Linked DNA regions of Homo sapiens. The protein of the gene in region 6 purifies or fractionates together with the protein of the main gene of each other region. This does not show direct contact. Each region holds a gene or a part of one and is shown on either strand. Other genes may lie near its edges.

Evidence for each region.
Region 1: the proteins of SLC44A3 (region 6) and ITFG1 purify together in Homo sapiens (affinity purification with mass spectrometry; one large-scale study listed by BioGRID and IntAct). This does not show direct contact.
Region 2: the proteins of SLC44A3 (region 6) and RP2 purify together in Homo sapiens (affinity purification with mass spectrometry; one large-scale study listed by BioGRID and IntAct). This does not show direct contact.
Region 3: the proteins of SLC44A3 (region 6) and DNAJC16 purify together in Homo sapiens (affinity purification with mass spectrometry; one large-scale study listed by BioGRID and IntAct). This does not show direct contact.
Region 4: the proteins of SLC44A3 (region 6) and TPM4 purify together in Homo sapiens (affinity purification with mass spectrometry; one large-scale study listed by BioGRID and IntAct). This does not show direct contact.
Region 5: the proteins of SLC44A3 (region 6) and PTPN4 purify together in Homo sapiens (affinity purification with mass spectrometry; one large-scale study listed by BioGRID and IntAct). This does not show direct contact.
Region 7: the proteins of SLC44A3 (region 6) and CNTNAP2 purify together in Homo sapiens (affinity purification with mass spectrometry; one large-scale study listed by BioGRID and IntAct). This does not show direct contact.

Annotation. Positions count from the first base shown.
Region 1 is NC_000016.10:47,451,064-47,454,563, forward strand, and holds part of ITFG1 (T-cell immunomodulatory protein isoform 1 precursor), read right to left. Parts: intron 3,096-3,500; coding exon 2,950-3,095; intron 1,728-2,949; coding exon 1,670-1,727; intron 408-1,669; coding exon 333-407; intron 1-332. UniProt on the Homo sapiens protein: Modulator of T-cell function. Has a protective effect in graft versus host disease model.
Region 2 is NC_000023.11:46,847,043-46,850,542, forward strand, and holds part of RP2 (protein XRP2), read left to right. Parts: intron 1-3,500. UniProt on the Homo sapiens protein: Acts as a GTPase-activating protein (GAP) involved in trafficking between the Golgi and the ciliary membrane.
Region 3 is NC_000001.11:15,547,348-15,550,847, reverse strand, and holds part of DNAJC16 (dnaJ homolog subfamily C member 16 isoform 1 precursor), read right to left. Parts: intron 2,579-3,500; coding exon 2,420-2,578; intron 1-2,419. UniProt on the Homo sapiens protein: Plays an important role in regulating the size of autophagosomes during the formation process.
Region 4 is NC_000019.10:16,082,995-16,086,494, forward strand, and holds part of TPM4 (tropomyosin alpha-4 chain), read left to right. Parts: intron 1-3,428; coding exon 3,429-3,500. UniProt on the Homo sapiens protein: Binds to actin filaments in muscle and non-muscle cells. Plays a central role, in association with the troponin complex, in the calcium dependent regulation of vertebrate striated muscle contraction.
Region 5 is NC_000002.12:119,979,922-119,982,660, forward strand, and holds part of PTPN4 (tyrosine-protein phosphatase non-receptor type 4), read left to right. Parts: 3' UTR 1-2,739. UniProt on the Homo sapiens protein: Phosphatase that plays a role in immunity, learning, synaptic plasticity or cell homeostasis. Regulates neuronal cell homeostasis by protecting neurons against apoptosis.
Region 6 is NC_000001.11:94,819,217-94,823,156, forward strand, and holds the start of SLC44A3 (choline transporter-like protein 3), read left to right. Parts: upstream 1-1,140; 5' UTR 1,141-1,235; coding exon 1,236-1,262; intron 1,263-1,384; exon of another isoform or gene 1,385-1,507; intron 1,508-1,732; coding exon 1,733-1,840; intron 1,841-3,940.
Region 7 is NC_000007.14:148,408,801-148,412,300, reverse strand, and holds part of CNTNAP2 (contactin-associated protein-like 2 precursor), read right to left. Parts: intron 2,911-3,500; coding exon 2,830-2,910; intron 1-2,829. UniProt on the Homo sapiens protein: Required for gap junction formation. Required, with CNTNAP1, for radial and longitudinal organization of myelinated axons.

The DNA.
Region 1 (3,500 bases), on a different chromosome or scaffold from region 6:
ACTAAGATAGGGAGGATCCACTCAAGACTGCAGGTATCCTCCCTATTTACGTGAAATCTATCCATTTCAAAAACATTTAATGAACCAATATTTAAATGGGGACCCGTAAAGTTTCAATCTCTAATTTTTCAAAGAGATAAAAGGAGTAAGCTGGCCCTTGGAAAGCAGGTGCAGGCCAAATCCAAACTATTTGAGAAAGCTTATATATATTAACCAAATGCCCACTTAAAAATCTTTAAAAACAAGGATTCCAATGAGCTATTTTTTCTCCAATGGTTAAAGTAGAAGCAATATATACGATTAATTACATAGTTATAACCATATTTACTCACCCTCCTAATAGTATCTGTGGCTGGTTGGATTCATTTGTGATACCAAAAATATCAGGAATTAGATCACCATTGAAACTGAAAAAAAATTAAAACAATAAGCAGCTATTTCTTTAAATTCTTACTTCTAATTTAGCTTTAAAAGAAGCAGTAACTTTTGGGAAGTGTGGTAGACATTACAATGCTCGCCAGTATCTAGTGATAAGTATTAAGTCAAATGTCAGCACAAGTGACATGTGTCACTTTTAGGCCAAAGTGTATAATTTCTGTTACCAGCCCCTCCAGCCCTCTCCAGGCTTGCCATGGCAATGAGAAGGCATTGTGATTCAGATGGACTAGCTACAAAGACAGTGGGCTCTCTGATGGCCTGACTCTAAGCAACAGCACAGAGCAGAGCCTGTTGTTGACCCACACTGGACATATAGTAAGAGCAAGAAATAAATTCGTTTTGTGAGATTTTGGGTATCTCTGTAATCTTTGCATTATCTAGACTACCCTTGAATGATAAGGATACAGCACTAATTCCTAGAAACTTACTTCAGAATCCTAAGCCAACTTGTTTACTTAGATGGGCTTAGGAGAAATAACCTAGAAAAATAATCCTAGTTGGTATAAAACTTCATACTGGCCATTGAATATTTTAACAACAATGAAAAAATACACAACTATGAAAGAAATCTAGCGGGGCACCGTTAAGAAGATTAATCCATGGATTTACAGTTCAGACTTCTAATGGCCACTGACACACTGCTGTATGGGTATGATTTTAATAACTGTAAGAAAGACAGTACTGGAAACAAGAATGTGGCCAAACTTTGCTCTAGTCCCGGGAATGATCTCGACCTCTACCAAAATACGCTGTCAGAAATTTGCAAATCCAAATTTACATCAATTATTTAAATCAATTATGCTGGTACATGAGTCTACAGTGAGAATATAAATGATAACACAAAGCAGGAGTTATATTATAAAAAGAACAAAAATTTCTCCTTAATATAGGAATCTTTCTAAATTTCTAGAGGAAACTGTATCCTAAATATCAAATATAACAGTTTTACTCAAAAACAGGTATCTTAATTCTTTCAGTAATGACAGCATAGATCCATAATGGACACATTTGAAGCGACTGAAATAAAAACACAAATCTCTTCTACTTTCCAAAATAATAAATTTCATTTTTCTTTGTCCTATCTGATGGCAAATAAATACAATATAATCAAAGGTACAGGCCTCTGAGTGAATTTAGTATTTTTATTACTAAGCAAAGTAGTTTCCTATGTGAAGATTTTATTTTATGTTTAAGTTTAAAATCGTTTCAAAGGAAGCAAGCCCATACTTACTCCATAATTAGTGGCTCATCTTGAAAAGTCCTATTGAGTATGGTCATATTGTTAGGATCTGCAAAAAAGATATATATATATATGAATTAGCAGGCATTTTATATTACTTTTGATATCTATGCTTAGGAAAAAATATTCTTCTACTCTTTTCTAGATTTATCTCTGATTTATTCCAACTATTATCATTAATGAGATACTATAAATCTAGTTCAAATGAACATCAAGCTTGCAAAGACAAAATATTGGGAGAATACATTCTACAGTGAAGACTAGCATTACAATAACCTCCTTTTGAGGTATGCATCTAAATATTTGCTAGCTGAGTCTTTGTCTTTACACAATTTAGTGCTAGAGAGGTTGACAATTAACAAGGTTTTGGTGTAAAGAAGGCCACATATGCAAAACTTCCTGGTTCTAAAATGTACATGCTTATATACAAGCTTTGTGCATGGTACTCCCTCTGTAAATATTTATTGACTTAATGAATATAATGTATCGCGATTACTGTTTACATTCCCAAATGGTGCAGAAAACATGACTGAAATTTGGCTCCATGAACAAAGTTGCCTATTTAGGTATAACTAATTGGCTTTTCAGATAAGGCTTGATGATTTGTGACTAGGTATGGTAGACTGACTCTCGAACCATACTTCAACTTTTTTGTGCTTTCCTGTGCTAAGGAGACTAGAAACCAAAAATAGCATTTTCCAGATATTGTGGCATCTGAGATGCTGAATAAAAGTTAAGCCTTGCCAATCAGATACACTGTGAGTCTTAAAGGCATGAATGAGGTAAAGGCTGTTTCTCTGCTATTTCTATCTGTGTCTGCTCACTGAATTTGGGAGTATCAAGAGACCAGGTGCAGCATTCATTTTGCTAGTGAGAATCACTGCAGGCACAGCATCATTCTGGCAGCAGTTGTGTAACTAGCCACTTCTGATAGGGGAAAGAGGCAGTAGCTTTTTTGATGATATTGGGATTGCTCCTGAAAGCTCAACCTAGAGTTTATTCTTTAGCCATCTCAATGATTCTGTGAGCCACTAAAATCCTTTAATAAATCTCTGTCCTCTTTAAGCTAGTAAGAATGAAGTTTGTCAGTAGAAGTGATCCCTGCCCAGTTCAGGGTTGAAAAAGAAAAATCAGGAAATAAACTTTGAAAAAAGGTTTTACAATTATTGACACCCAAGAACAGTATTTTTGAACTGATTTCAGAACAATATTTTGTTACATTTACCTTCATATTCAATGATAAATATTAAAAATTTTTAAAACAAATTCACCTAATGTTTGATTTTGTCCCCAGAAGATAACAGCTCCTAATTCACTCTTGGCATAATTTTTGGGAAGATATGTCAGAAGGACATCCATTTGAGAATCTCCATCATAATCCCCAGGGACTACACTTGTTATCAATGCACTGTGATTCCTAAAAGAAACAAGCATTTACAAATATCAGACAAGTTGTAATGGAAAAGGACAATTCTGTATTTCTACCACACAAAAATATTTTCAATGAAAAACTTAAAACTTAACAGAACTGACTGATTGCCTTCTCTTTCCTATCTTTTCATCCATCATGTATTTAGACCTCTTTGGTCTAAAAAAGAGTTCAGAATGAATGCAGAATAGTCTCAAGAAACAAGACAAATCTGAAATATGTCGAGAGAAAACGTGTTTATTATGTTCAAGCAATGGCTAGTATAGCCCTTCTATATAGTTCCTTTGTCAAGGACACCAAGACATTCGGATGGTGTTTCTAACAAATGGAGGCTCATAATTGCCAAAGCAGTAAGCATTATCACTGGGATGTTTTCAATTAAAAGATATTATT
Region 2 (3,500 bases), on a different chromosome or scaffold from region 6:
AATGTTTAGCCATTCTAATAGGTGTGTAGTGATGTTTCATTGTAGTTTAACTTGCATTTCCCAAATGACTTGTATTTACCTAAATGTTGAGCATTTTTCATGTACTTATTTGCCATCCATATATCTTTGGTAAAATGTTTATTCAAATCATTTGCCCATTTTTTTATTGGGTTATTTGTTTTCTTATTATTGAGTTTTTCAGAGCTCTTTATATGTCCTGGATACAAGTCCCCTGTTATATATATGTTTTGCAAATACTTTTTTCCCAGTTAATAACTTGCCTTCTCTTAAGAGTGTCTTTTGAAGAGCAAACATTTTCAATTTGAGTAAAAGTCCAATTTCCACTCACTTTTTCTTTTGTGGATTGTGTTTTTGGTTTCACATCTAGGAATTTTTTTTCTTTTTCTGAGACGGAGTCTTGCTGTGTCGCCAGGTTGGAGTACAGTGGCGCGATCTCGGTTCACTGCACTATATGTATATGTATGTATGTATGTATGTATATACACATACACCATATATATGTGTGTATATATATACATACATATACAAAACAATTGCTTACTAGATGCACAAATCAATGGAATAGAGAGTTCATAAACAGGCATATCTCTCTTTACATATATATATCTATATCGATCACACTATATATATGTGTGTGTGTATATATACACACATATATGTGTGTGTGTATATACACACATATGTGTGTGTGTATATACACACATGTGTGTGTGTACATACACACATGTGTGTGTGTATATATATACACACATATATGTGTATATGTGTATATATGTGTGTATATATGTGTATATATGTGTGTGTATATATATACACGCATATATATGCGTATATACATATATATGGACTCATATATGTGTATATACATATATATATATATATATATATATATATGGACTCACAGTGTGTCCTTGGACAAGTTATATAGTCTCTGTGTGCCTCAATTTTCTCAAGTATAAAACAGAGATAATTATAGTACACAACCCTTATGGGGTTTTTATGGATTGAGTGAATGATTATAGAGCACTTAGTATGGTGCCTGGTACATATATAGTGCTTCTTATACTCCTGAATCTTTTTACTTCTATTCAGACTGGATTTTCATTGGAATTAACAAATCCCATTATTTTATCTCACATTATCATTATGGAAATTTAACTGTGGAGATGAATTTTAATGAAAAATTTGTATTGCCGCTTAGTAAGATAATAAGATGTTCATTTTTGTTTTCTGTTAGGAAAATAATGCTTAACTTGGTTTAATAGCTGTAGGACATTAAATTGATATCAGACGAATTACAACTCTTGAAATTTTTCTTTGATTTTTTTTTTTTTTTTTGAGACAGAATTTGGCTCTTGTCTTCCACGCTGCAGTGCAGTGGTGCGATCTCGGCTCACTGCAACTCTGCCTCCTGGGTTCAAGCGATTCTCCTGCCTCAGCCTCCCAAGTAGCTGGAATTACAGGCGCCCACCACCATGCCCAGCTAAGTTTTGTATTTTTAGTAGAGACGGGGTTTCACCATGTTGGCCAGGCTGGTCTGGAACTCCTGACCTCAGGTGATCCACCCGCCTCGGCCTCCCAATGTGCTGGGATTACAGGCGTGAGCCACCACGCCTGGCCACTTTCCTTGATTTTTTAAAGTATATCCATTACCTTTTAAGGATTGTAGTAAGAAATAGTCTAGGCCAGACACGGTGGCGCATGCCTGTAATTCCAGCACTTTGGGAGGCTGAGGTGGGTGGATCGCTTGAGTCCAGGAGTTCGAGACCAGCCTGGACAACATGGCGAAACCCCATCTCTACAGAAAATACAAAAATTAGTTGTGCATGGTGGTGTGCACTTGTAGTCCCAGCTACTCAGGAGACTGAGGCGGGGAGGATTGCTTGAACGGTGGAGGTCGAGGCTGCAGTGAGCTGTGAGTGTGCCACTGCACTCCAACCTGGGCAACAGAGTGAGACCCTGTGTCAGAAAAAAAAAATACAGTCTAAACTAAACTCACTTCATAAGTGGCTCTTAGGAAAAAATAATTTAAAACATGACCTTTCCATGTTTGTGATTCTAGACACTTTATTTCAGAACTAGTAACCTGCAAAATTACGAAGGATTTCAGTTTCAGTTGTTTATTATTACTTTTTTTTTTTTAAAGTGTCAGGGTCTTGCTTTGTCACCCAGGCTGGAGTGCAGTGGCATGATCATGGCTCACTGCAGCCTTGAACTCCCAGGCACAAGCAGTCCTCCTGCCTCAGCCTTCTGAGTAGCTAGGACTACAGGCGCACACCACCATGCCCAGCTAAGGGTTTTTGTGTTTTTTTACCCCCCTTCCACCAACTCACTTCAAATAATCTGCTAAGTTTTAAAAAACTTTTTTAGAGCTAGGGGAGTGTCACTGTGTCACCCAGGCCAGTCTCAAACTCCTAGTCTCACTAGGCCACTGGCCCACTCTCAAGTAGCTGGGATTACAGATGTGAGCCACTGTGTCTAGCTCCTAATGCTTTTTGTTTTGAAAAACTTTCAGGAATTGTTGAGAAAGTACAGCAACATAAATCTTAAATTTCTCCTTGGAAGGCCGTGCTGACAATCCAACTAATTTTATACTACAGAACTATTTAGCTATAAAATCTTTAGCTATCAGATTAATTTCTCCCTATGAGCTAGGAAAAGTGGAGCGTCCAGAGAAAATACTTAGGGTAGTAAATTACATTTAACTCCTCAGCATTGGCAGCTGTTATGGACTGAATGTTTGTCAAATTCATATGTTGAAGCCCTACCCCCCTACACATGGCTGTATTTGGAGATGGGACCTCTAAGGAAGTAATTAAGGTTAAGTGAGGTCATAAAGGTAGAGTGCTGATCTGATAGGATTAGTGTCCTTATAAGAAGATTCAGTTAGCTTGCACTTGCTCCCTCCCTCTCCTTCACACAGAGGACAGGTCTGGTGATGACATAGCAAGAGGTTGGCTTTTGCAGTCTGAGCAGACTAAAACAGGCTGCCATAACAAAATACCACAGACTGGTGGCTTAAATAACAGAAGTTTATTTCTCACAGCTCTAGAGCCTGGGAAGTCCAAGATCAAGGTGCTAGCAGATTCAGTGTCTGGTGAGGGCTCTCTTCCTGGCTTACAGACAGCTGCCTTCTTGCTGTGTCCTCACATGGCCTTTCCTCTGTGATTCATCCTTCTGCCTTACCTCCTACAGCCATTGAATTACCAGTCTGCTGATTCTGTTTCCTCAGTATTTCTCAAATTCATCCCATCTTCTTCTTCCCTACTAATTACAGCTCTGGTTCCAGCCCTTTCTGTATGACTACAATAGTCTCTCCGATCAATCCATGTTGCATGTGTCCTTATCTCATCAGAGTAATTATCCTGACATGTAAATTTTGCTTATTTAAATCTTTCTGTGGTTCCCTCTTGTCTGTGGATAACTTCTAAGCTTTATATAATACGGTTTCTGCCTACCTCTGTAGCTTCATCTACTAG
Region 3 (3,500 bases), about 79 Mb from region 6:
GGTTTGTTTTTGCTGCGAGTGATTGGGGGTGAAGCACACAATGATGGTAGGTGGCCTGGTGCCCTGCCTGGATTCATGCACTGGCACTGGCAGCTTCACCCACTACTGCTTTGGTACTATCAGTGTAAATGTCAACACAGTGAAAAAGGCAAATCGTGTCTTGATATGATCTCACAGACTTTCTCTTGAAGGATCTTTGAGAATCCCCAGGAGTCTATCAACCACATTCTGAAAACTGCTGTCCTAGAGAACTCTGTACTTAGGTTATGATATTCATTGCAACACTATTCCTCAAAGCCCCCAATGTCCACCAACGGAAGAATGATTCAATAAATTATAATGGCCATAAATACCATATAGCAATGACAACAAATTACCTAGAGCAACAGGAAACCACTGGTGCTACTAGTGATCATTAAGCCACCTGCTGTTGTGAAAACTGAGTTTGTTAAGCATACACTTGATATCCACAAAGAGCAAGCTGGTAAAGCAGCCATTCTACCAATAATTTTGTAAATGTATTTGATTTACAATTTTCCCCAGTGGGATAAATAAATATAATTCTCAGAACTATAAACTGTTCCGAAAGACCAATTTAGGAAATCCTCATCCATTTACCCTGGATTGAGATTATCTTCTCTTTTCTATTCGGACACTGGTATTTGTTTTCTTCCTGACTTGCAGCACCTTCTCGTCTCCATCAGGCACCCCCTTGTCTTGTGTGCCGGTGGCTGTTCTGAGTTTTGTCCTTGGCCTCCTTGGCCTTACTTTACATACAGCAGTCATCCCCTAACTGCAGAGGATACGTTCCAAGACCCCCAGTAGGTGCCTGAAACCACATAGTACTGAACTCTATACAAACTATGTTTTTTTCCTATACACATACCTATGATAAAGTTTATCAATTAGGCACAGCAAGAGATTAACAACAACAATATTTAAATAGAACAATTCTAACAATATACTGTAATAAAGTGATGTGAACATGGTCCCCCTCGCTCAAAACATCTTTTTTTTTTTTTTTTTTTTTGAGACGGAGTCTTGCTCTGTCGCCCAGGCTGGAGTGCAGTGGGCGGCGTGATCTCAGCTCACTGCAAGCTCCGCCTCCTGGGTTCACGCCATTCTCCTGCCCCAGCCTCCCGAGTAGCTGGGACTACAGGGGCCCACCACCACGCCCGGCTAATTTTTTGTATTTTTAGTAGAGACGGGGTTTCACCACGTTGGCCAGGATGGTCTCAATCTCCTGACCTCGTGATCTGCCCGCCTCGGCCTCCCAAAGTGCTGGGATTACAGGCGTGAGCCACCACGCCCGGCTTCAAAATATCTTCTTGCACTGTAGTCACCTATGTTTTGGACCTGGTTGACTGTGGGTAACTGAAACCTCAGAAACTGAAAAAGGGGTAAGTGGGGTGGATCAGGGGAGACTACGGTATTATGCCGGGAAGATCTTACCCTACTCAGGACTTCAACCACTAACCATTTACTGATGATACACCAGTTTCTATCCCCAGCCTGTATGCTTTTCTTAAGATCTCGATTCCTATACCCAACTGTAGAAAGGACTTCTCCCCTTCTATTTCCTACAGGCAGCTCTAATTCAGTATGTCCACAGCCAAAGTTCTTATCTTTCTAAACCTGCTCTTCTTTCTTTACGGTCCACTTTCCCATCTGGTTTCCATGGTTTCAGGTACCCTTCTGTGTTCACAGGACACCTGAGCTGCCATTAGAGTGGACTGCCTCTAGCAAGATAGTACTTGTTTCTCTATACCCTCAACAGTACTATTTTAACTTAGAAAATCTTTGACAGTTGGATGGGTGAAAAAAGGTTAATGTTCTCTGATTACTTGTGAGATTTAATTTTTAAAAATGGTTATTAGTCTTCTCAGAATTTTATGATTTTCTTGATTAAAAGCTCTTTAGAAATTAAAAATATCAACATTTTAATATTTGTTATAAATATTCCCCCAGTTTTTTAACTTTACATTTTAAAGTATTTACATAAAAACATAAAATTTAGAGTCAAGTTATCAAGATTTTCCAAGATTTTTCCCCAATGCTTTTTAACCCTTTCCTACCTTAAGATCAGATAAATATTCATCTGTACATTCTCTCAGTTAGTTTGTGGCTTCTTCTTATTCCTTTTTATTACTGTTTTACATTTAACTTTTAAATTCATTTTGGAAAAAGATTGTTGGTTTTCCAACAGGAGCCCTTTAAAGGTGCTAAAATTTTTAAACGTTTTAAATTAAAAATTTTAAAGCAAACGGTACCAAGTTAGATAAAAAAATTCATTAAAAAATTTTGTGCATCTGAAGGAAGATCCTTTCCTTCAGCCACTTTGTTCAATTTTGCTGTTTATTTACATAAAATCTTGGGATAAAATGTGAAGAAAATCTTAACCAAGGTGACCCTCACGTACCTGGATAACATCGGCAGGCCTGTTTATATGTTCTTTAAAGACCAAGAGGGTAGGGGCGTAGATATTGATGTTGTACCGCCTTGTCATCTCTTCCGTCCCTCTCAAACCCACATATACATATCCAAATGATAAATAATCTTTGTATGCAAAGGCAGTCAACTGTTAGGGCATAATAGAGAGGAAGAAAATAAAACTACAGCAAAGATGTAAATGACAAATCAAGTAGGGCTTTTTCACATCACTGAGCAGAGAGGTACATGCCAGCTTACACAGCTCCACTAGGTCTTCCGTATCCTTGTATACTTCCATTCTATGGTGTTCCATGTGCAAAAACTGTACCAACAAAGTAAATACAAACAACTCTCTTCTTTTTCATAGCTAAAGCAAAATAACGATCTTCTTGAAATCTGTACTGGTCAGGAGGCATGAGTTTGGGGATTACCTGTACCGTAATTAGGTAAGATGGCAGTGACCATGCCACTGATAACACCTTCCTCTCCGTCTCATGTCACAGTGACATGAGAGGTAGTGGGGAGTGTAGGTAGGCTGGGAGTGTAGTGGGGGAATCATTCACAGGGCAGGTCTGAAGTCAGTGGGAATCGCGCTCACCATGCTGTAGTGAGAACTTGGGTGGGTTATATGACTGCTCTAAGCCTCAGTATCTTGCTCTATGCAAACAGGGATAGTGGCCAGGCGTGGTGGCTCATGCCTTTAATCCCAGCACTTTGGGAGGCCGAGGTGGGCGGATCACTTGAGGTCAGGAGTGCAAGACCAGCCTGGCCAACATGGTGAAACCCCATCTCCACTAAAACACAAAAATTAGCCGAGCGTGGTGGTGTGTGCCTGCAGTCCCAGCTACTCTGGAGGCAGAGGTGAAAGAATTGCTTGAACCCGGTAGGCGGAGGTTGCAGTGAGTCTAGATCACACCACTGCACTCCAGCATGGGCAACAGAGTGAGACTTGGTCTCCGAAAAAAAAAAAAAAGCCCATCACAGTGGCTCATGCCTGTAATCCCAGCAATTTGGGAGGCTGAGGCAGGTGGGTCACAAGGTCAGGAGTTCGAGAGCAGCCTGGCCAACAT
Region 4 (3,500 bases), on a different chromosome or scaffold from region 6:
AAAAAAAAAAAAAAAAAAAAGCAGAGTACTGTGGAGAGGAGGAAAGGAAACTTGGGATGCACAGGTGATTGTTAGCAGAGCTGTCAGGCTTTAGGCTTTTGGACGGTGACAGCTATTTCAGGGACAGTTGCAAACCAGCATGGTTAATGTACTTGCAACTGACCATGCACCAGGTGCCGTGGCTCACGCCTATAATCCCAGCACTTTGCGATGACGAGGCGGGTGGATCAACTGAGGTCAGGTGTTTGAGACCAGACTGGCCAACATGGTGAAACCCCGTCTCTATTAAAAATACACAAATTAGCTGGGCGTGGTGGCGGGCACCTGTAATCCCACCTACTCAGGAGGCTAAGGCAAGATCCCCCAGCTTGAACCCAGGAGGCAGAGGGTGCAGTGAGCCAAGATCGCACCACTGCACTCCAGCCTGGGCAACAGAGTGAGACTCTGTCTCAAAAAGAAACTGACCACGTTCCTCACCCGCCCATGGTATCTGTGCTGCAACCCAGCCACCAGTAGGGTGCCTTCTCCTCGGTAGCCAGATCATTCTCTGGCACGCCTTGGCACAGGCTCTCTGGAAGACTGAGGGTAGATTGTGTAATTCACAGAAGCAGCAGTCTGTGTGTGGTGGAAAAGGAGTTCCTTGTGTGGCAATGGTGTGGGCCCGACCAGTGATCATCGCGTCTGCCCCTCATTCACACCGGAGTTCTCACTTGAGCCAGCCACCATGCTTTTGCAGTATAAACACCTCCCAAAGATTCATTTCTTTTTTTTTTTTTTTTTTTGAGACAGGGTCTTACTCTATCACCCAGGCTGGAATGTAGTGGTGCGATCACAGCTCACTGCAGCCTCGACCTCCTGGGCTCAAGCGATCCTCCCGCCACGGCCTCCAGAGTTCCAGAGTAAAGCTGGGACTACAGGCGCATGCCATCATGCCCAGCTAATTTTTTTTTGAGACAGAGTCTCGCTCTGTCGCCCAGGCTGGAGTGCACTGGCGTGATCTCAGCTCACTACAAGCTTCACCTCCTGGGTTCACGACATTCTCCTGCCTCAGCCTCCCAAGTAGCTGGGACTACAGGCACCCGCCACCACACCCGGCTAATTTTTTTGTATTTTTAGTAGAGACAGGGTTTCACCGTGTTAGCCACGATGTTCTCAAGCTCCTGACCTTGTAATCCACCTGCCTTGGCCTCCCAAAGTGCTGGCACGCCTAGCTAATTTAAGATGCATTTCTGGTTGTGCTGCTGTGACCACTAACCAGAGATTAGAAACCAGCTAAGGAATCTTGGAGATTGCATGTCACCCAAGCTGGAAATTTCTTCCCAAGTAGTGGAACAGCCAGGGCAGAGGGAACAGACGCTACTGCAGACTCTGCTTCAGCCACTGAATCAAGGGAGAGAGTGGCAGCTCCGGCAGCCACGGGGCAGTGGAAGGACCCAGTCACGAGAGTTCCTGGCTGTGCCTGTGGCCTGGGTTAGCTGCTGTTCACAGTCAGACCAGCCTGGCTGGATGCTGACGTTGAGGGCTCCCATATTGGCAAACCAAGGGAGGCTGCGAAGGCCAGTCTCTTGTTTGCACCATGTCCCCAGAGGCCTTTGGTGACACCCCTGTTAAAGACTGCTGTGTCTCAGTAGAAAGAATTATATACTTGAAGCTTGGGGATCTAGAGTCAGCTTCTACCACTGGCACTTTCTATGGAGCCTTAGGCAAGTCACTTTGATCTCTTGGGTACTACAAGGGGTTTTGGGGCAATAAATAACCCAGAGAGCTTGCTCACATGCTGAGGGTGAGACCTCGTACAGGTGGGGGAGGGTGTTTTGAGACTTAGCTGAGAACGGGTGACACCCCACGTGAACATATTTATTGGACAGCAAGAAGCATATGGTCTCTGTGCTGGGTGGGAATGATACATATCAATGACACATTATCCCAGGCTGGCCTCTTCTTTTCTTTTCTTTTCTTGTTTTAAATACACAAGGTCTTGGCAGGGTGCGGTGGCTCACACCTGTAATCCCAGCCCTTTGGGAGGCGGGCGGATCGCTTGAGCCCAGGAGTTTGAGACCAGCCTGCGCAACATAGTGAGACCCCATCTCTACAAAAAAATATTAAAAATTAGCCAGGCATGGTAGTGCATGCTGGTAGTCCCAGCCACTCAAGGGACTGAGGTGGGAGAATCACCTGATCCCAGGAAGGCAAGGTTGCAGTGAGCTATGATTACACCACTACACTCCAGCCTGGGCAACAGAGTGAGAACCTGTCTCAAGAAAAAAAATAAATAAATACACAACGTCTTGCTCTGTCACCCAGGCTGGAGAGCAGTGGTGCAATCACGACTCACCGCAGCCTTGAACTCCTGGGCTCAAGCGATCCTCCTACCTCAGCAACATTGCAAAACCCCCACCTCCACAAAAAATTTTTTTTTAGTTTAGCTGGGTGCAGTGGTGCACACCTATAGTCCCAGCTACTCAGGAGGCCGAGGCAACAGGATTGCTTGAGCCTGAGAGGACAAGGCTGCCGTGAGCTCTCAGGGCACCACTGCACTCCAACCTGGGCAACAGAGTGAGACACCATCTCTCAAAATAAAAGAAAAAGAAAGGGGGCACAGACTCTGGAGTCAGACTGCCAAGGGCTGAGCCTCAGCTCTACCACTTACCAGCTCTGTAACCTTAAGTTACTTACCCTCTCTCTATGCCTTAGTTTCTTCATTTGTAAAATGTGGATAATTTACCTGCTCCATAGGGCAGTTGTGAAAGTGAAGGCACTTAGAAAAGTGCCTGGTAGTAAAGATGAAGGGAGGCTGGGCGCGGTGGCTCACACCTGTAATCCCAGCACTCTGGGAGGTCAAGGCGGGCAGATCACTTGAGGTCAGGAGTTCCAGACCAGCCTGGCCAACATGGCGAAACCCCCTCTCTACTAAAAATATAAAAGTTAGCCGGTCACGGTGGTGCATGCCTATAGTCCCGGCTATGCTGGAGGCTGAGACAGGAGAATTGCTTGAACCCAGGAGATGGAGGCTGCAGTGAGCTGAGATCACACTACTGCACTCCAGCCTGGGTGACAGAGCGAGACTCCATCTCAAAAAAAAAAAAAAAAACCAAGATGAAGGAAATGTGTGCACAGAGTTCCATCTTTGCAGTGTGTTACAGTGCTCAGTAGATTCAGAGACTCATTTAGATGAGAGATGGGACTAGGGGTGGTGTCTCACGCAATTAGCCAGACATGGTGACGGGTGCCTGTAATTCCAGCTACTCAGGAGGCTGAGGCAGGAGAATCGCTTGAACCCGGGAGGTGGAGGTTGCAGTGAGCTGAGATCGTGCCACTGCACTCCAGCCTGGATGACAGAGCGAGACTCCATCTGAAAGAAAAGATAGATGAGAGGTGGGTGGAGGGGTGTGAGTGAACGGCCGTCCTGATGAGATTGCTCCTTGCAGAGGAATGAAGGTGATAGAAAACCGGGCCATGAAGGATGAGGAGAAGATGGAGATTCAGGAGATGCAGCTCAA
Region 5 (2,739 bases), on a different chromosome or scaffold from region 6:
AGGTGTTTTATTGAGCATCTGATTTGTGTCAGCACCATGTAAATATGATGAGGAGTATTTGGAATAGACTTTACATTCACCAGAAAATTGATAGTATTTGTTAAACCAATGCATCCATTCAAAATAGAGGCAGAGTAAACAGCCTAAGAAATGATTTCCTTTCTACAGTCTGCTAGGAGAAAGAGGTGAGAGGGGAGTGGTTGATGATTTTAATCAAGAGTAAAGGGAACATTTATTACATGAAATCTGACTTCAGTTGTGCAAAGGTATGTTAAGACATTAAGACAATTGCTGGAAGGTTTCAAATATGTGTACACACACATAGAGCTACTTTTGTGTGTTTATTTATATGTATATTTCACAAAGGCTAATGCCCACAGAGGAAAATGATTATTTTAACTTCTGGGTTATCATCTGCTGGCAGGGTCTGATCAGGTCTAGAGTATTTAAGGAAAAGTCTCCTGTCTTCTATCTCCACTAGAAGTACTGCAGCTTGAGAGCTGAAAGGAACTTGAAAAATGTTATCCAGTCTTCACTTAGCCCATTTTTATCGGCATTAGGAAATAGGGTTCAGCAATGGTTATTGATTTAGCAGTCTGGTCTTATATGATCTGCTTTCTAATTATCTATCTAGTATTCCTATATTATACTGGAACTTCAATAAATTATAACCTATGTGAATATCATAAATTCTTGTGAATTTTTGTCTATTTCCAGTAGAGAAGCATACTCAGCCAATGTTTTCACTTAATAACTATGACAACCTTAAAGGATGTCACTTAAGTTAGAAAATAAGCAGGCTTAAGAAGTGATTCTAATTAGGACCCCCACTCAGTTTGCTAGTCATGCCTGCCTGACAGAACATAAGCTTTTGTAAAGTATTTAGACTGATAACACATGCAGTATGAAAACATTATAGACTGCAGTTAGAAGACTAATTTTTTAAAAGCACTCAAAACATAGAACTAAGATTTAGAATATATGTCCATTTATAATGAAATAATTTGTGTTCATAATGTGAACATGTAAGATAAGTAAATAAAGCATTACTTGTTTTATAATATCAGGAAGAGAGAAGGAAACATTAGTTTATAACAATGTGCTATTTAATATCTGTATTTTGAACATTTAAAATACTCTGATGGTAAGGTTGCCAAAGTAATTTTGAATTCATAAAAATTGTTTATACCACAATAATGTGGGATATGTTTACAGGCTCTTTTATTTTGTGGTAGTTACTTTATAGTTCAGATGAATTTGCATTTCAGTCACTTATAGTAAATAAAGTATATTAAATATTTGTTGGAATAAAAATCTCAATGTAATAGGACATAGATAAATTATGCAACAGCCTGCTTTGATGAAAGCTGGTGCATTATGTGAGCTGCCACAGTTAATACTTTGTATTAACATTGCTTACTTCCCCCATTTGCTTCACCTATCTGACTACAATTGCTGGAATCATTCTTTTTGTGGTGCTTCCTCCAAGTGAAATAACTATGTTATTAAAACCTACTGGATTAATTTTATCAAATATCAGACTTACTGATCTCTTGGCAGAGATTTATTGGTGTCTCAGTGTGATCACAATACAAGTTGTAGCAACCATTTTATAAAACTCTTAGAGAATTATGTAGATAAAATGGAAATTACATAATCCTAAAACATTTTTGAGGGCTAATTGATAATAATTTCAGCAATTTTATTAAGAACCCAGTAAATTAATCCCTAATTTGTATGTTTTTTGTTCAACTTACCGTGTCTGCAACCATTATATAGACTTCATTGATACTCAGCAATTACTACAGTGTGTCTTACAATGTTATAAAAAACAAACAGCAATCTCTGTTTCTGCCAGAAGTTAGATATTTTTTTATAGTCCTGATGAATTTGTTGTGAGTAGACACCACATAGTTATTTCTGTTTGCATATAAATTTGCTGCTATTTATTTGTATGTTTTTCTACTGTAGTATGCTATTGATTTCTGAAGTTATAATCATAATTTTTATTTTAGTAATCCAAGCTAAATGGGCAACCAGAAGTAATATCTGCTAGGGTGCAATCCATCAGCATTGGTTCAGTGCATATACATAAGTAAACCAGTTTAAAAAAATTTTACTAAGCAAAAGGTAGTAGCAATATTGCTAGTTAAAGATTACCATTTTAGGGGAAAGTTCAAAGGTTTAACTTCCTGAAACCTTTTAAACTTTTCAGTGCAAGAATGAAAATGTTTGAAAGCCTTGTTAAGCTCATAAAAGTTTCATTTAAACACTGTAGAGTTTCCTACCTTTGTTGTGTAAAGGATATAGAAAATATTTTTCTATGGACAGAAGGTTGAAACTGTTAACTTCTTTAATTTCATTGTTTAAAGGAGATAAAATGTTATTTGTGTGTCTTTCATGCTGTAAAGAAAATGAATGTATCTTTCAAATGTCATTAGAATTATGGCTTGATTCTAAGGATACTCTATTTGTTTTAAAGTCTACACGGGATTGAAAAGAAAGGGAAGAGTATTACACTTCATTGTACAAAATGTAATTTTAGAAGAAAAACATTTTCATTATAAACAAGAGCAATCATTGAAGCATTTTCAGATATAATGTACATTCTTTTTCATTTTGCTTTGCCTCTAGAATAGAAACTTTTCAGAAAATTTGCACATACTGTTTGTAAGTATAAAATAATTGAATTCTAGACTTTTGGAGTGTGGAAGGGTGTTTGTGTGTGAAGGTAATAAA
Region 6 (3,940 bases):
CATCTGCTCTACTGATCAGTTTCAGATGGCATATGTTATTCAGTTGTGGTCTTTTAACAGTAGTTGCACTCCTCCAGTGTCTAATTCTTTGTCCTATGAATTCATGTTCCCCTGGGGTTTCACCTACTCTGTCTGATAAACATGCATCCAGGAAGGCCCAGTGAGTTTGCAGTGGGAGGGTGGTGTGAGCCCAGAAGGAAATCGCTGGCACCAGAGAACCACTGTCTATCATTCCCAGTTTCTCCCACTTACCCAGATCTTTCCTCCAGTCAGGTTTCTACCCTTAGGGAGAAGCAGCACCTAAAGGAAGCAATTAACCTAGCAACCCTAAGGGTGGCAGGGGGAAGGGTAGAGGCTTGATTGAGAGGAGGTGGGGGGAGGTCGGCCTGCAGTTTTTTTTGTTTTTCGTTTTTTAAATTCCTCACCCCAACAGTGCTTTTGCGCTGGTCTGACACTACCTGGAAAACTATGCCACCAGTCGCTTCAGTGGACACTACCATTTCAATTGCGAAGTCAGGCAATGATTGTCCTAAGGCAAGGTGGGAGAGAAGTCAGAGTAAACCACCTCGAGAGCGCCGGTCTCCCGGAGTGTCTGGGTTCGACTCCTGCCTCCACAACTTACTGGGTCTCCTCGAACAAGTTGCATCACCAATGGCCGTGCCTCAGTTTCCCTCCTCCGTAGATTAGGAATAACAATAGCAGTGAGAACAGAATCCAGCACACAGTAAATGCTGCTTACCTGTTTGCTATGTGGAATACGCCACTACACTGTTGCTCGGCCCTCAGGAAGGGTCTGCTGAGACTTTCTACTTCCTGCTCAGGGCAGAGGCCGACCACCCGCCCAAGGTCGTGGCGGCGCCGGCTCAGCTTTAGTCGTCAAAGTGCACATCCTGGGAGCCGCTGCCTCGAGGTGGTTGAGGCGAGAGGGCAGGGAAGCGTCTGAGCCTCTTCCTCCCACCAGAGCAGGACCCCAGCTGACAGCGGGTGAGCTGGGCAGAAACCCATGCCGGGAAGAGGCGGACCCAGTGGACCGCAGCGCCCGCAGTCGCCGGGCCAGGCGCAGAGGCGAACGGGAGGCGGCGCTGCACCGTGCCCGCCCCTCCCCGGCCCGGCCCCGGCTCCAGCCCCAGCCCCAGCCCCAGCCCCGGCCCCGGCCCCGGCTCGCGGGCGCTGCGTCTCCGCGTACAGGAGGCGGCGGCGGCTCCCAGTCACCGGCCCCCGCCGGCGAGCGCACGATGCACTGCCTGGGCGCCGAGTACCTGGTAAGCGCTCGCAGCCTCGGCCCTCGGGGGAGGAGCCCCGGGGAAGGGTCGAGTCCCCCGCCTTCACGCACCTTCCCTGCCGGACGCTTCCGCCTTTCCCGCGCCTCGGGGATCCCGCCCCCGCTTAGTACCTTGGGGCCACCTGGCGGGGAGGAACCTGGACCCTGCTCCAGTGCTGGGGCGGAGGCGGGGGAGACGCGGGCCGCGGGGCGCAAACTTGGGGTCGTCCTCAGGTGCACCTCCAGGTAAGCACTTGGCGGCAGGGGGCTTAACATCCGCTCCGCGCAGAGCAGGTGTTTCAAAGGCTGTGTGAAAGAGCTTCAGGTGGCCACGTAAAAAAATAATATTAATTTTAAAAATTTAGAAAAAGATTGGTTACTTTGGCCCCTCTTCGAGTAGATTTGGGTTCGGTTTCCAGGTTGAGTCCACCTGTTTATCTTCTTTTTCTCAACTCTCCCTTTTTCTGGAAGGTTTCTGCAGAAGGAGCCCCTAGGCAAAGGGAGTGGCGACCCCAGATTTATAGGAAATGCACAGATACGGCATGGTTATTCCTGTTCTTTCTCTTTTGGACTGGTTTGGTAAGTGTGGGTGCTTGGTAGGAAAGAGGCCAGAGTGTGTGTGCACGTCTGGAAATAACTCTGTCCCAAATGTAAATCGTAGTTGGTGCTGCAGTGAGAGACTTCTGCCGTTAACCCACAATAAACATCAGTTTGTACTCGGGAGAATTCTTGTCCTAGACTCGCTAGAAAGGCTGTCTTTTTGCTACAGGCCATGTTCTAAGGGGTGACTCCATTAGGAAATGGGAATTAACAGTTTGCAATGTGATTGCTATTTAGTAAGGCCAATGTGTCTCCTTTTACTCTCCGAACTTACTGAACAGAAGTTCTTTTAGCACCTGCCACACCCCCAAATCAAATATTCCTCAAGCTTTTGGTGCACCTTTAACAAAGGAAAAGCCAGGGTAAGCCTAGAAATAAACTGCATTTCCTTTAGCTGAACATCACACACACACGCGCGCGAGAGATATGTTGTGTTTAGCAGCCAACACTGTTAACCATAGCTAACAAGGAATGATTTTTCCCACTCTAATTTCGAGGTATGTATGATTGCTGGTAAACTCCATCAGGCTATGCGGTTATAATCCTGAGAGAGTCTGTTGGAAGCCGAATCTTGCTGCTTTTATACTTATTTTAGAATTGTAGGTAACAGCAGAAAACGTCTCACCCGACATTTTCAAAGGCCACTTTCACGAAATCATCCATGCCAGGATAAGGCATGCTATTTGCTGCATGGTAAATGATTAATTTATAGAGCAGGGTAATAACTACCAGATAGTAATTACCTTTGTTGAAAAGAATTCCATCTGAATAGGCCCTAAAATATCATGTTTGTTCTTTCCAAGTAAGAAAGGCATTTGTTCACTTATGACCCGTTTCACATAGACAGGCTTGGTTACAGGCACAGTGGAAGGTTAGGTCTGAAACACATAATCAGATGTTTTTTGTTGCTTACGTTGGAACTCTCCCCTAGGAGCTGGGAGAGACAGTGCACCTACAATACCTTCTGCTTAACTTCGCAGATGGTTGGTGTTTTTATCTGAGACTGCTGTTGTATAAATGCAGGGAGCAGCTGGCCTGCCTTGTGCCTGGCAGCTTTGACCTCAAGCTGTTATTGTGATTTAATGATCTGCCGTAGCCCCTCCACAGCTTCAACCTAGGACCTCACTACCAAACTCTCAGCCCAACAGCTGAGAATCCTGGGGAAAATCTTTGTAGATGACCTATCACAGCCTGAAGAATTGTGAACCAGCTGAGAGGTGGCACGGAGCTGGAAACTGCTTTAAAATTACATTTCATTTGCAAAATAAGTCTGAAGTTTTAATATATCCAAGTTCTCACTATGGCATTCTGTTTTAAGAGTCAGAGTCCTTTCTTAGCTCACTGGCTTTTAGTGTCTTTTGCAACATTTTTTATTTGCAGGTATTTAAAACAGAGCAAGGAGTGTTTTGTTTTTGGACTTTTTTTTCTGCCTCTGTTGTTCAGCTTTCAGGTCTTGTGACAGATGTCCTGACTGGTGATGGTGTGCCCTGAGTTAGGGCTGGACAAAGGCTTGGGGGAAGGAGCTGAAATTATAAGCAGAGATGGTTCTTGCAAATGCAGCACCAGCCTGTGTTTATATTTGCATTAAACATAAGGAACAAAGTCTCAAAGTCTGGACTATCTCTGCCTCTACTTACCCCTCCAGTATCCTCTCCTGCCCTGCCTTTTCCTATCATCCCTCAAGATTCCATTTTCCTGATTTTGCAGGCACGGTTGACAGTGACTACCTTGGTGGCCAATGTACTAGACCAATGTACACACCTCCTATATCACCTGTCATATAGAATCGCAATTGCATGTTTGAAATTAGGACAATGAAGGTTTATAGTAGTAGTTTCTTGGAAGGCCGAGGCAGGAAGATCCCTTGAAGCCAGGAGTTCAAGACCAGCCTGGGCAATAAAGCAAGACCCTGTGTCTACAAAACATAAAAAATAATAATCATAAAGTCATAGTTTTATTAGGAGGGACTCAGGAATCCTCAGAAACCACTCCCACCTCTCCCACCCAGAAAAACTTTCCATTCTTCACCACAGGCTTTCCAAAGGAAAGAATGATGGTAAATGGAAAACATCACTTTGT
Region 7 (3,500 bases), on a different chromosome or scaffold from region 6:
GCCTGGCCAGGATTAGAGAACTTACATTGTTTATTTCAAGACTTAGTATAAAGATACAACAGGCCGGGAGCGATGGCTCACACCTGTAATCCTACCAGTTTTGCAGGCCGAGGTGGGTGGATCACAAGGTCAGGAGATTGAGACCATCCTGGCCAACATGGTGAAACCCTGTCTCTACTAAAATACAAAAATTAGCTGGACATGGTGGTGCGTGCCTGTAATCCCAGCTACTCGGGAGGTTGAGGCAGGAGAATCGCTTGAGCCAGGGAGTCGGAGGTTGCATGAGCCGAGATCGCGCCACTGTACTCCAGCCTGGCAACAAAGCAAGACTCCCATCTCAACAAAAAAAGATACAACAATAAAGCAAGCATGATATTGGCTAAGGAAAGATATATATAGACCAACAAAACAAAAAGCCCAGAAAATAGACACACACACACACACACACATATGTCAGTTGCTTTAACAAAAGTGCCAAGAAAATTCAATTGAGGAAAAGTATAGTTTTTTTTTTTTCAACAAATGGTCTTGGAATGACTAGATATTCATTTGGAAAATACTGACGTTGACTCTTCTCTCACACCATTTATAAACATTAACTCGAAGTGATTAAAGACCTGATGGCAAATGATAAAGTGATACAACTTCTAGAAGAAAGCTGAAAATCTTCAAAACCTTTGGGTAGGCAGACTTTTTAGATAGGACAAACCAACCACAAACTATAAAAAAGATTGGGGCCGGGCACGGTGGCTCACACCTATAATCCCAGCACTTTGGGAGGCTGAGGCGAGTGGATCACTTGAGGTCAGGAGTTGGAGACCAGCCTGGCCAACATGGTACAATCCTGTCTCTACTAAAAATACAAAAATTAGCCAGGCATGGTGATGCGTGCCTGTAGTTCCAGCTACTCAGGAGGCTGAAGCAGGAGAATCGCTTGAACCCGGGAGGCAGAGATTGCAGTGAACTGAGATCACGCCACTGCACTCCAGCCTGGGCAACAGAAAGTGAGACTCTGTCTCAAAAAATAATAATAAATAAAAGTTACGGACTTGTTACACTTATAGATGCGTATTATACTTCAATTAAGTTCATTTAAAAAAGCAAAAGACAGTGAGGATTGGGATCTTAATGGTAACAGGGATGTCAATATCGATCTACGCATGAGGCTCAGTGGCTATCCGAGGAGAGTCAAATTATTATGTAGCTGTCCATGGTGAGAAGAAAACACTGGAATATTTTAGATGCTACAGCTTGTTAAATCTTCTGATACATTTTTAGTTTTTATTATTTTCATTGTGCAAATTTACGGGGTACATGAGAAAATTTGTTACACGTATATAAGGAATAGTGGTCAAGTCATAGTATTTAGGGGTTCATCAACCAAGTACAGTACATTTTTGTTAGATATAGTCATCCTACCCTGCTAGCAAACCCGGAACTTGTTCCTTTTATCTTTCTTACTGTATGTTTGCACCCTGTAACCCACTTCTCTTCATTCTCCTTCCTCCTCCTGCTCAACTTTCCCAATCTCTGTTACGTGTTTTTCTTTCTACCTCCATGTGTGTAAATCTTTTAGCTCCTGTGTATCAGTGAGAATATGCAATATTTGTCTTTTTGTGCCTAGCTTATTTCACTTAAAATAATGACCTCCAGTGATTTTCTGATAATTTTTATTATGATAACTGAAATCAGACTGGCATTTCCCTTTTCGTATTTTTTTTTTTTTTTTTTTTTTGAGAAAGGTCTCAATCTGTCACCTAGACTGGAGTACAGTGGTGTGATCTCAGCTCACTGCAACCTCTACCTCCCAGGCTCAAGCAATTCTCTTGTCTCAGGCTCCCGAGTAGCTGGGATTACAGGAATGCGCCACCACGCCTGGCTAACTTTTGTATTTTTAGAGATGGGGTTTCACCATGTTGGCCAGGCTGGTCTTGAACTCCTGACCTCAAATGATCCACCTGCCTCGGCCTCCCGAAGTGCTGGGATTACAGGCGTAAGTCACTGCACCCAGCATTCCTTTTCATTTTTTTATAGTACGCTATCCTGGACCATTTTGGATGCGAAAGGATAAGACTGAAAAATATCCGAGGGGGATAAAGAAATGTCCTGGCTATGGTCACTACTACCTACTTAATTATTCTGAGTCTGTCCAGCTTTCCACTGCTATTTGTTTTTTACAAGCCAGCATTAAAAAGTAGCCAGGTTACATTTACTATATTCTTTCTTTCTTTCTTTTTTTTTTTTTTTTTTGAGACGGAGTCCCGCTCTTTAGCCCAGGCCGGATTGCAGTGGCACAATCTTGGCTCACTGCAAGCTCCGCCTCCCAGGTTCACGCCATTCTCCTGCCTCAGCCTCCTGAGTAGCTGGGACTACAGGCGCCCGCCACTGCGCCCGGCTAATTTTTTGTATTTTTAGTAGAGACGGGGTTTCACCGTGTTAGCCAAGATGGTCTCGATCTCCTGACCTTGTGATCCGCCCGCCTCGGCCTCCCAAAGTGCTGGGATTACAGGCGTGAGCCACCGCGCCCAGCTAATTTTTGTATTTTTAGTAGATATGGGGTTTTGCCATGTTGGCTAGGCTGGTCTCGAATTCCTGACCTCAGGTGATCTGCCCACCTCGGCCTCCCAAAGTGCTAGGATAACAGAGGTGAGCCACTGTGCCCGGCTATATTTACTATATTTCTTCACATCATATGTCATAATCTTTAAACAGCAAAATGAATAATGTAAAAACCTAGAAAACTTTTTTTCCTAGACTACTATGTTATTGACAACTATTACTTTCCATAGTTGAGTAGCCCCATATAAGCCTCCTCTAGACATCACCTACCTCCAATGATAGCCGAGTTTCTGTTGACTCCATTTCTTATAGCTTGGCCTTGTCCTGGATTATATGGAAAATCCGCACTGGCTGTAGAGAAAGAAAGAGTCAAGTGTCAGAGTCAAGTATACTATTGATCCCAAATAATTTGATACCTATTTCTTCATGCAACTCTTCAACACTTCCTGTTTTCCCAAATGAAATCTCCATTTCAGATGGACCCGTCTTGCCATTGTCTCCCACAAGAATCACAACAGCCTCCATCCCTGTTCCTGCTGTTTCTCTTTGCACAAGGCCTAGGTAAACACGACTTCCCACTTGGAGCAATATTAGAGAATCCTAGAGCTACCTGAGCTGGCCTGCTCTAGTTCCACAGACAGACGAGTTTATGCATTTGAATATGTTTCTTACATTTGGTTGAAATCTGCTTCCCATCCACTTTTAACCCCATGCACAACTGGTGGCATTCAATGTATTTGTAGATGAGCTTTTTACAGCTACAGTATTAAAAAGTTTAAAAAGGAATCATTCCTTTAAACTTGTATTTTTCATGGCTGTAATAAGACACTGGCACACTTTAGGAATTTGTAAGGGGGTAATAATTCAAAACAGTTAAGAATATTAACTGCCTAGTGAATTTTCTATTTCTTTCCCTATTATAAACGTAAGAATCAGTTGTG